Homo sapiens: one gene and its partners. The protein of the gene in region 1 purifies or fractionates together with the protein of each later gene. This does not show direct contact. Each region holds a gene or a part of one and is shown in the gene's direction. Other genes may lie near its edges.

Region 1 (4,205 bases):
TGCCTCAGCCCCTGAATAGCTAGGATTATAGGCACCCGCCACCACGCCCGGCTAATTTTGTATTTTCAGTAGAGATGGGGTTTCACCATGTTGGCCAAGCTGGTCTTGAACTCCCTACCTCGGGTGATCCGCCTGCCTCAGCCTCCCAAAGTGCTGGGATTACAGATGTGAGCCACTGTGCCCGGCCAGAAAACTACTTCTTTGGAGTCCACAGGCAACTGGGTACAAATTCCAGGTTTATCACTTAACTGGTAAACTTGACCAAGTCTAAGCTTCATTTGTTTAACAAGAATAACTATTGGCTTCATTGGGAGGTTATAACCATTAAATACTAAGTTGAGCTATATGAACCTGCTGTTTCTGGAGGCAAAAACAGTCTAACATCATGGGGAGTGGGGGGAATCTACCAAAATGGTAAGGATTCCTTTGTGCTTTTGATTTTTGAAAACTTCAGCCCTAAATTCTTCCTTTTCACCTCTCTTGCCCAAGGCATAGTGCCACCCAACGGTCTGCGTGGCCCTGGGAGCTCGGAGGTTGCACACTGTTGACCTACCCTATTGAAGCCAGTAAGTTAGTCAAGGGACAGCCTCATGAGATTTGGGAGTTCTACAAGGATCTGGAGTTTCTTTCCAGCCAGTCACAAGCACATCCCTTGGGGGCTAGAGAAGTCAAGAGCCCTGACACATAGCCTACCACACACAGACTCAGAGTGCACTTTCACCCTCCTTTTCAACGCCTATTTGCCTCACTGTACAATGAGTAGTGACATTGGCTCTATTTTTAAATGTGGAAACTGAGGCCTAGAGAGGGTCAGGTCCTGTCCAATGTCACAGGCACCAATTGGTGTTGGAAAGAAGGTGGGGTTTGGCGTCAGATGGATCAGCGCAAGCACTGCCTCTAGATGTGTCACCTTCACAAGGTTCTTTAACTTCTGGGGCCTGTTTCTTTTGCTAGAAAAGGTCGCTGATAACGCTTGTCCTCATATGACTCTTCAACCCAAGTCTGCTCTCTGGCAGCCCCACATGTGGGGAGACCCCCAAGGAGACACTGCGAGAAGCACAGAGTGCGGCGCGCCAGGACTCAAACCGTGGGCACCCGACCGACGCACACGCGCAGCCCCACGACAGTATCAGTATTTAATTTCCACTAGAGACAGAACTAAGCCTAACCATCACCAGGCTCAAGCCGCCTACCCCAAAACCGAGAACGGAACTGCCCGGTCCCCCCGAAAAGAAGGGCGGAACATTTCGGCCAAGTCCTCAGACTACCGAACCGGAGAGCTCCGAAAGGGGACTACCTGCGCCTGCGCACCGCCATCTTGTTAAAAGAGCCCGCCTCTCCCTCGGCCGGTCACTCTTTCGCCACGGGCGGGGTTGCACCATCCGGCAGGGCGGGGCCCGGCCATGGCGACCGCGGAGCCCAGCGGGCGCGCGTTGCGGTTGTCTACCCCGGGACCCCGGCCCAGCGGGGCTCGGGACCGCGCGCCGGGAGCTGCGGGGCCACCCTCCGGGCAGATCGGTAATAGAGCCCTCCGTCTGGGGGAGCGCACCCCCGCGGCCGTGGAAAAGCGGGGGCCATACATGGTGACGCGCGCACCCTCCATTCAAGCCAAGCTGCGTGAGTGTGGCCCGATGGTCGGGGGAGGTTTCTCCCTGGGCGGGCGGCCGCGTCCCCAGGGCGGGTTCCGGAGCTCCGCTGGGCCTCGGCCCCGGAGGGAAGGGGTTAGCTGCAGCCTGCTCTCGCCCCTCAAAATCCGTTCGGAAAGAGCGGCCTCCCAGCCTTCGGGAGACGCGGCGGAGTGGGGAAGACCCGGCTGACCCGGGTCCTTTAACTTCCAGAGAAGCACCGGGACCTGGCCAAGGCCGTTCTGCGGAGAAAAGGCATGCTGGGGGCCTCGCCGAACCGCCCAGACTCTTCAGGGAAAAGGTCTCAGCAGGCGCCACCTCCTCTGTGCCAGCAGCTTTAGAGAAGGCTTTAATCCCCAGGACGGAGGCAGGGTGCTCTGGTTTAAGGCCGAGCTAGCGATTCCCCTGATGCAACCTGTCAGGTTCACTATCTTTAAAATGGGAAGAGGAACAATCTCTCTTTTCCTTTAAGGATGTGATAGGATCAGATAAAGGGCTTCGGAATAAGGGAGTTCTGTGAGTGCACAGGCTCATTCACTATCATTCTCCTCCTCTGTTAGGGAGGAGAATGGTGGCTGGAGTCCCCAGCAATGAGGACGAAGAGCAGTGTGGGAATGGCTAGACCTGTTTTTGTTTGTTTGTTTTTAACAGAATAGTAAACTCGGAGCTGCATAGAACCTTATTCAGTGCCTCCTTTTACAGATGAGGGTTGAAACTCGGAGAAGTGAAGGTTAACCCTAACCTTTTACCCAAAGACTTGCAGTTTTTGTGTCCTCTGATTAAATAAGTGGGGAGAGGGTGCTTTTCCTAGATCAGGCAAGGGGAGGTGTGCTTTTTTCCAAGACCTATGGGAGGAGTAGAATACAGGCCGGGCGTGGTGGCTCACGACTGTAATTCCAGCACTTTGGGAAGCCGAGGCGGGTGGATCACTTGAAGTCAGGAGTTCGAGACCAGCCTGGCCAACATGGTGAAAGCCCGTCTCTATTAAAAATACAAAATTAGCTGGGCACGCCTGTAGTCCCAGCTACTCAAGAGGCTGAGGCAGGAAAATCACTTGAGCATGGTAGGCGGAGATTGCAGTGAGCCGAGATCGCGCCACTGCACTGCAGCCTGGGTGACAGGGCCAGACTCTGTCTCCAAAAAAAGAAAAAAAGAATGAGAACATACACATTCTGAGGCACTGTAGCCAGGTACATGGAGCTGCAGGCAGTGGTGGCTGTGACCAGGGAGAAGGCAAGTCAGTAGTGCAGTCAATTCTTTCTCCTTCAGGGCGAGGACTCTGCCTATCCCTGTGAAATGCCTATGCTTTCATCTATGTTTGGTCTCTTCTCCCCCGTCTCCCCTCAGGTCAGTGAAGTTTAACAAGGGCTATACTGCTCTTAGCCAGAGTCCAGATGAAAACCTGGTGTCCCTCGACTCTGACAGGTGAGTGCTCCCCTTGGAAATACCCCCTTGGGAAGCAACTTGGCTGGGACTGAAGATCGCCTGATGCCTTTGCTTGTTCCCTGTCTCCTCCAAGGCCCTTCATGTACATTCCAGGGCCGTTCTCTTCTGAACAATATCCCTTCCCAGGATGGCTTGGTTAGAAGACTCATAGGTAATCGTGCTGCTCTAGAATTCGGAGCACCAATGTCCGGGGGATCATCCTGCCCTGTTATGTTTGCATTGTTAGTGAGAGTGACCCTGTCCCTGCCAGAACCAATTGAGGGAACCAGTATTATTCAAGGCCTGTTCGGACTTGAGTTCTGTTGTGTGTGGCCTTTGCTTCAAAAGTCTTCCAGATGCCCTTGCATGCTCTCCGCCTGATGATTTACAGCTGTGCACCACAGGTACCTCCCGGAACTGACTGTTTTCCTCTTCTCCTAGTGATGGGGAGCTGGGATCCAGATACTCCTCCGGGTATTCATCTGCAGAGGCAAGTCCAGAACACCTTTCTGTGCAGGGCCAGGCTGCAGGCAGCATTACCACCACTGCCAAATGCTTGTTTGGTGCCCGCTGTGAGCACAGCACTGTGCCAGACTTCTGGTCTGTTCTACGATCTTCCACTCTGCCCTCTTCCCCCGGTGGAGGTATAGGTGACCAAGGAGGGCTGTTGAGAATCGAGGAGACCATTTAGACTCAGGGCTAGAAATGATCTCAGAAGTCATGTAAGCTGGGCATGGTGGTACATGCCTGTAGTCCCAGCTACTAGGGAGGCTGAGGCAGGAGGATTGCTTGAGCCCAGGAGTTCCAAGACCAGCCTGGACAATATAGCAAGACCCTGTCTCTAAAATAAGACTCTAAAATAAAAGTCTTCTAGGCCACAGCTTACAAAAGGAACCCTTTTGATAGATCCCAGCTAAGTGTTTGCTAGTCTGTGCTTACTTGAATGCTTTTTGTAATTGGGTACTGACCACCTCCAAGGAGCCTTGCTACCCACCCTTCCCTCAACACACACAGAATTTTTTCTTTGAGTAGCTGTTAGAGAAATCTTCCTTATTAATCTGAATGGGTCCATTGGTCCTTGACCTGCTTTCCAGTGTCACACAGCAACTCTAGTTTCTCTGAGATCAGCATTTCCGTCTCTCCCCTGCCCATCTT
Region 2 (3,647 bases), on another chromosome or scaffold:
GGGACAGGGCAGATGGCACCCACTTTCTAAAGGGGGCCTGTCTCAGCGCTACCCAGGGACAGCTTCGAGGGAGAACGGCTGGTACCGGCTGCTCTTTTTTTTTTTTTGAGATGGAGTCTCGCGCTGTTGCCCAGGCTGGAGTGCAGTGGCACAATCTCGGCTCACTGCAACCTCCGCCTCCTGGGTTCAAGCAGTTCTCCTGCCTCAGCCTCCCGAGTAGCTGGGAGTACAGGCACCCGCCACCATGCCCAGCTAATTTTTTTTGTATTTTTTAGTAGAGACGGGGTTTCACCATGTTGGCCAGGCTGGTATTGAACTCCTGACTTCGTGATCTGCCTGCCTTGGCCTCCCAAAGTGCTGAGATTATAGGCGTGAGCCACCGCTCCGGGCCCCTTCTGATTTTAGAGAGAGGTTTAATGTCCAGTAAACCTGCAGGTTTCCCGGAGTTTGCATCTTACTCTCTTTGGGCAGAACATGCCTGGAGGGACAGAGATGGCCTGTGGGCACCCACTCACTTCTACCCTGCATGCAGGGTGGCAGGGCTTGGCCAGGTTTTTGATCTGTTTTGTTTTTTTTTTTTTTGAGACAAAGTCTCGCTGTGTCGCCCAGGCTGGAGTGCAGTAGCACAATCTTGGCTCATTGCAACCTCCGCCTCCCGGGTTCAAGCGATTCTCCTGCCTCAGCCTCCCGAGTAGCTGGGACTACAGGCGCATGCCACCACACCTGGCTAATTTTTTGTATTTTTAGTAGAGACGGGGTTTCACCATGTTAGCCAGGATGGTCTTGATTTCCTGACCTCATGAGCCACCTGCCTCAGCCTCCCAAAGTGCTGGGATTACAGGCGTGAGCCACTGCGCCCAGCCCAATCTGTCTTTACTTGACGCCTGCTGTATGCCAGGCACTATTCTAGTCCTTGGGATGCAGCAGGGATGACAGTGAAATGGGCACAAGCCCCTGCCCTCAGGGCATCCCCTCAGGACACCTGGAGCAGGACAGCTGGGGGACTGGAGGGGCATCGAGGGCCGCAGAGACCCTGTGTCTGCCAACACCATGTCCTGGGCTCTGTCTGAGGCCCAGATGAGTTCTCCTCCCTGTCTCCCTGAGCTGTGGGCACTTCCCCAACGTGACAGAAGAGGCCATGGCGGGCACTGTCTGTCTGTCCCTGTGCCGTGGCCGGGCCGGAAGTGAGAGCACCACAGAGCAGGGCTGTGGGGTGGGGGGTGCTTTCTCCTCGCCAGCTGGGGGCTGTTGCAGGGCTGAGTGGTCTCCCTCCCTGGGTGACCAGCAGGTGAGCCTCCTTCCTGCCAGGTGGTGACCCCGCCAGAGAGAGCTGGGCCGCCCTGGGGAGGCTCCCAGGCCCCAGCCCAGGTGTGCCGCTCAGCCACACATTCCCCGAGGCCCGGGCCGCCTGCCCCATGGGCTCAATGAGGCTGTTGTGGGGGCCGCAGCAGCCGAGCCAACTGGGGCGCCGCTTCTATTTTTATTCTGGATTTGGGGACGGGTGGGCCAGCCCAGCCAGCAATGCCCTTTAAAGGCTCCCCTGTGCTGGCACTGCAGCCAGCGAGACCTTAAAAGGCAAAGCTCCCTCCTGTCGCCTGCGACCGCCTCTGCCTTCATCGCATCATGCCCGAGGGCCAGCGTGGACCCGTGGGGACAAGCGGGGCAGGGTCTGGGGAGCTGGCAGCGTACTTACTGCTCCTGGACCGCTCAGAGATGCTGAAGAGCTGCTTGTTGGGCAGATGTCAGTGGGCGGCCCCGAGATAGTGCCCTGGCAGCTGTCCTTGCCCCTGTAGCCCTGAGCCTGGCTCACAGGAGGTGCAAGACTAGGGGACAGGCCTCTGTGGGTCAAATGCACAAGGGATGTTCCCTCCTCCTCGGACGGCCATCAGGGGAGGTGCACTGGCAGGAGTGAGAGTTACTATGCCATGCCATTGCGCCTCCTGGAAGGAACCGCCCATTCCCCTGGAGCTGGGGTGCTCTCCCCTCTTCTGCTGGGGAACACCCTAAACGCTGTAGGGGAACTGTGACCTAGAACCGTGTGCCTCCCCGCTGCCCTCCCTCACGGGGGCCTGTGTCCCCTCCCACTCTCATGTTCTGCCTCGCAGAGCACAGCAGTACAAGGGCGGAGCTGGGGTCTCAATGGAGGCTGGGGACGTAGCTGTTGGGTGGGAGGTGCTTCCCCGACCACCTGAGCCTGTCTCTGGAGACAGCAGTCACCCCAGCACAGCCTCCTGGTGGGGGCTCCATTCCTGGGGACCCTCATTACCTTCCCCTCTTCACATGATGGTTGTTGAGACTCAGGCTGGGCATATCAGAGCTGCCTGCTTAGGTCAGTGAACAAGGTGAGGGTTGAACTGTGGTGCATGGCACCTCCAGAGCACTGGCCTTGCAGTTCCTGAGCTCAGGTGTCAAGTGGGGCTGCAGATCTGTCCCCAGAGCCACAGGGTGTGTTCTCATCCTGCACTGCCATACCTGGCCCCTCTAACCGCACCCCCGACAGGCACATTGTGGGTGAGGCTGACCCGGGCCACCGCTCCTGCAGCTCCAACACGATCTAGTCATGAAGGGGCAGGGGCAGGGTCCTCTGCAGAGGGGCCAAGCAGGGAGTTGCTATTTATAGGAAGATGCATGGCTTGGGTGGATTCAAAATCTTTTTTTTTTTTTGCATGTTTTTTTTGTTTGTTTGAGACAGAGTCTCACTCTTATTGTCCAGGCTGCAGTGCAGCATGATCTCGGCTCACTGCAACCTCCAGGTTGGTCTTGAACTCCTGACATCAGGTGATCCACCCACCTCGGCCTCCCAAAGTGCTAGGATTACAGGCGTGAGCCACTGTGCCTGGCCTTTGCATGTTTTTGTTTGTTTGTTTGTTTGTTTGTTTTTGTGACTGAGTCTCACTCTGTCACCCAGGCTGGAGTGCAGTGCCAGTGGTCTCGATCTCCTGATCTCATGATCCACCCGCCTGGGCTTCCCAAAGTGCTGGGATTACAGGCATGAGCCACCGCGCCCGGCCCCTTTGCATGTTTTTAATGAGCATTCCGCCTACTTTCCTCTTGCTGGCTGTGCCCTGTGTTCTGTGTCCCCAGGCTACTGTTCCCCAGGCCAGATCATTCCTGGCTGGCCAAAACACCCCTCAGCCACTGCCAGCCACACGTTGTGTTTCTGCCCTTCAGGGCCATGTTCACCGGCGGCATGCGGGAGGCAAGCCAGGACGTCATCGAGCTGAAGGGCGTGTCGGCCCGTGGCCTGCGGCACATCATCGACTTCGCCTACAGCGCCGAGGTGACACTGGACCTGGACTGCGTGCAGGACGTGCTGGGCGCGGCCGTGTTCTTGCAGATGCTGCCCGTGGTGGAGCTGTGCGAGGAGTTCCTGAAGGCGGCCATGAGCGTGGAGACCTGCCTCAACATCGGCCAGATGGCCACCACCTTCAGCCTGGCCTCGCTGCGAGAGTCGGTGGATGCCTTCACCTTCCGGCACTTCCTGCAGATCGCCGAGGAGGAGGATTTCCTGCGCCTGCCACTGGAGCGCCTGGTCTTCTTCCTGCAGAGCAACCGGCTGCAGAGCTGTGCCGAGATCGACCTGTTCCGCGCGGCCGTCCGCTGGCTGCAGCATGACCCGGCCCGGCGGCCGCGCGCCAGCCACGTGC
Region 3 (3,647 bases), on another chromosome or scaffold:
TGGTATATTTTGCTCTATGGTGGGGAGATGGTTCTGGGCTCATGTTGACGCCAGAGAGAAACAGAATGTGCTGAAAGTAAGAGTGGCTAAGGAAAGCTGTGTTGCCCAGATGGAAGCAGTCATCACAGATACCAAAATCTCATTTACATGAGAGATTTGTTGTAGATATACCCCTCTGCCCTTAAGAAAGACATTTCCTTGCTTATATTTCCAGATAAATAATGTTGAAAATTAATTTGCCCTAGGGATAATTATCTTATTAAATTATTTTCATTATGAGTGATAACTTTGAAGGAACCAAAATGAATGATAGTAATGAGTGATGCCTATTTACGTGAAAGGGAAATCTAGGGTTTGGGTATTAGAGCTTTTCTGTTCATGGATCTGCTAGCTGTGTGGTATTTTTAAGAATAATGACTAAGAAGTGGATTGAGATGAATCATAATAGAACAACCTTCTATTTTCCCAAGTTTCCATCTGGCAGGAATTTTATCAGTATTTTGGGGGTGGGGGTGGGATACATTTTTGAGGAGAGAAGAGTAACTGGTTTGGCCATATTCCAGTTATAACATTGTTTCTTAGAGTAGCTTCTAACTTACTGACTTTGATCATTTTCTTTTAGTCAGCCTTCTAGTGGATTAAGTAAAGGTGGTTTGCAAATTATCTGTTTGTAGATCATTGATACATTTAGATAAGAATCCTATTTGTATCTATTTGAACATTAAAAGCATAATTTACTCTTATTCTAGAACAGGTATTTGTGCTATCAAGATGTGATTGCCATGAAAGTAGTCATGTTTTAATTTTTTTTAATTGGCTTAATAGGTCACTTTAGACAACTGTGTTGAAGTTGGACGGATTGCCAACACCTACAATCTAACCGAAGTGGATAAATACGTTAACAGTTTCGTCTTGAAGAATTTTCCTGCATTGCTGAGCACAGGGGAGTTCTTGAAACTCCCTTTTGAGCGTCTTGCCTTCGTGCTTTCCAGTAATAGCCTTAAGCACTGTACTGAACTTGAGCTCTTTAAGGCTACCTGTCGTTGGCTTCGCCTGGAAGAGCCTCGGATGGACTTTGCTGCAAAATTAATGAAGAACATACGATTTCCACTGATGACACCACAGGAGCTCATTAATTACGTGCAAACGGTGGATTTCATGAGAACTGACAATACTTGTGTGAATTTGCTTTTGGAAGCCAGCAATTACCAAATGATGCCATATATGCAGCCAGTTATGCAGTCAGACAGGACTGCCATTAGGTCTGACACCACTCACTTGGTTACACTAGGAGGAGTGCTGAGGCAGCAGCTGGTTGTCAGTAAGGAATTGCGCATGTATGATGAAAAGGCCCATGAGTGGAAATCGTTAGCCCCCATGGATGCCCCAAGGTACCAGCATGGCATCGCCGTCATTGGAAATTTTCTCTATGTGGTTGGCGGACAGAGTAATTATGATACAAAAGGAAAAACGGCAGTTGATACAGTCTTCAGATTTGATCCTCGATACAATAAATGGATGCAAGTTGCATCTTTAAATGAAAAGCGCACCTTCTTCCACCTAAGTGCCCTCAAAGGATATCTGTATGCAGTTGGTGGGCGAAATGCAGCAGGTGAACTGCGTAAGTGCATTTATATTAAGCATAGAGACAAATTTCTTCACTCAGAAATTCTTATCAAATCATAAAATAAGCAGTCCTGTAAAATCAGATAAAAATGTAGTTAGGGTTTTATTTTAAAACTATTTTTCTGAGAAAATATTGAAGACCATCTTTATGCCTTATCTGGGCATATATCGTTGGCAAGGGAACAAATTGTACGTTACAAATACATCAGTATATTGTAGCATATTTCACCTGTGCAGTATATATGGTCTTCATCTTGAAGGTTCATCTAAAGAGTATACTTAGCTCATTTAAATTATAATAAGGTCTTGGATAGAAGTTTGGCATGTTTTCTCATTTTCTGCTTTTAAAAGGCCATATGATATTTTACTGAACAGGTTACAATCCTTCATTACAGAAAACTTTCATTGTTTCTTCTTTTACAAAATATGTTACCTATTAGTGGCCACAAAGATAATTTTCTTTATAGATTAAATGTACAAAGTTCAACATTATCCAAAGTTTGTTCACTGTGAATATTATGATCTATGACTGTTTTAAAAATAATTCTGTTGACGTAATATCAGATAGTTTTCTTTTCCATAAGCCCATCTGGTAAGCTTTATTTGATGGTCACCTTTTTGTCTTCCCAGTATAAAATTGGTCATAAATGTACTTTGATGTAGAATACTTTGGCTATGTAAATTAACCCAAAAAGGTAAAATTTTATTATTTCAGATAAAATTGGGATAGTATAATTTTTCCAAAAATAAAGGCAGGAAGTCCACATTTTATGTTGTGACATATATTTGTCATTACCATTATTGTTTGGCCTTGTTTTCAATTATTTTATTCTCTATTATAAATAGAGTCTGTCACAGGGAGGGGAACATCACACACCAGGGCCTGTCTGGGGTTGGGGGGCTAGGGGAGGGATAGCATTAGGAGAAATACCTAATGTAGGTGACAGGTTGATGGGTGCAGCAAACCACCATGGCACGTGTATACTTATGTAACAAAACAGCACGTTCTGCACATGTACCCCAGAACTTAAAGTATAATAATATAAATAAATAAGTAAATAAATAAAAAATACAAAAAAGACAGAAAGACAGAAAGGAAGAAAGAAAGAAAGAAAGCCAGATGTGGCTCATGCCTGTAGTCCTAGCTGTTAGGGAGGCTGAAGCAGGATTGCTTGAACACAATAAATAAATAAATAAATAAATAAATAAATAAATAAATAAATAAATAATGTCCTTGTAGTTGACCAATTCCAGGCTCCATAGAGCTGGGAAAGTTCAAAATATTGGCATTGGCTCTGGATAAGTTCAGAGTAATTCTCAGAATCTTTATTTTTCAATATTCTAAGAAATAAAAGATAGTTTAATGTATTTGAGACTAAGCTATTTATCAGAGAATAGAATAACTGTTCTCAGCTTTTATACTTTCCTGTTTATAAAACCCTTTCTTGTTAGTGACATGGTCTTTTTCCTGATCTTTTCTACCCAAAGTTTTTTTTTCTTTGTTGTTACAATGATATTTTTTTCTAAGACCAGATTTTCTAGATTGTTGGACTATGTCGCATGATCATGAACTGCATAGGTTTTCCAATATATTTTAATAATTGGACTTTTAAAAGCAGTTAAGGCATAAGTGTCCTTAGTGTACAATTGTTCTTTAGGCCTCCTCAGTCAACCTACACACATTATTTTCATGTTATTATACTATTTTAAATTTGCGGTATCTGGAAATATCTAGAAGGTGCAAGTAGTGACTTGGTTGTTTCTTAGAAAATCCCTGTATAAGATAATGTTTTCTTAAATATTTTCTTCACAAATAACAGGTCATTAACTTGGTCAGTCTTCTTTTCTCAAAGGAAGTAGCTCCGTTTTTCAAAGTCAGTCCTTGCTTGTTGATATTATCACCCCTGTTAATATGCGGCTACTTAGCTTTCAATATATAGTTCCTAATACTAATTAAAAGCCATATTCTTCTGGGAGTTTTTAATCTTCAGGCCAAGGAGAGTCATTACATAAAACCAAGA

Evidence for each region.
Region 2: the proteins of FAM219B (region 1) and KLHL26 purify together in Homo sapiens (affinity purification with mass spectrometry; one large-scale study listed by BioGRID and IntAct). This does not show direct contact.
Region 3: the proteins of FAM219B (region 1) and KLHL13 purify together in Homo sapiens (affinity purification with mass spectrometry; one large-scale study listed by BioGRID and IntAct). This does not show direct contact.

What each region holds. Positions count from the first base shown.
Region 1 is NC_000015.10:74,903,999-74,908,203, reverse strand, and holds the start of FAM219B (protein FAM219B), read left to right. Parts: upstream 1-1,352; 5' UTR 1,353-1,403; coding exon 1,404-1,617; intron 1,618-1,838; coding exon 1,839-1,926; intron 1,927-2,972; coding exon 2,973-3,050; intron 3,051-3,144; exon of another isoform or gene 3,145-3,222; intron 3,223-3,491; coding exon 3,492-3,540; intron 3,541-4,205.
Region 2 is NC_000019.10:18,664,493-18,668,139, forward strand, and holds part of KLHL26 (kelch-like protein 26), read left to right. Parts: intron 1-2,908; coding exon of another isoform or gene 2,909-2,951; exon of another isoform or gene 2,952-3,084; coding exon of another isoform or gene 3,085-3,171; coding exon 3,172-3,647. UniProt on the Homo sapiens protein: May play a role in endo(sarco)plasmic reticulum (ER/SR) mitochondrial signaling. May be part of the ubiquitin-proteasome system (UPS) and affect ubiquitination and degradation of target substrates in cardiomyocytes.
Region 3 is NC_000023.11:117,907,275-117,910,921, reverse strand, and holds part of KLHL13 (kelch-like protein 13), read left to right. Parts: intron 1-825; coding exon 826-1,621; intron 1,622-3,647. UniProt on the Homo sapiens protein: Substrate-specific adapter of a BCR (BTB-CUL3-RBX1) E3 ubiquitin-protein ligase complex required for mitotic progression and cytokinesis.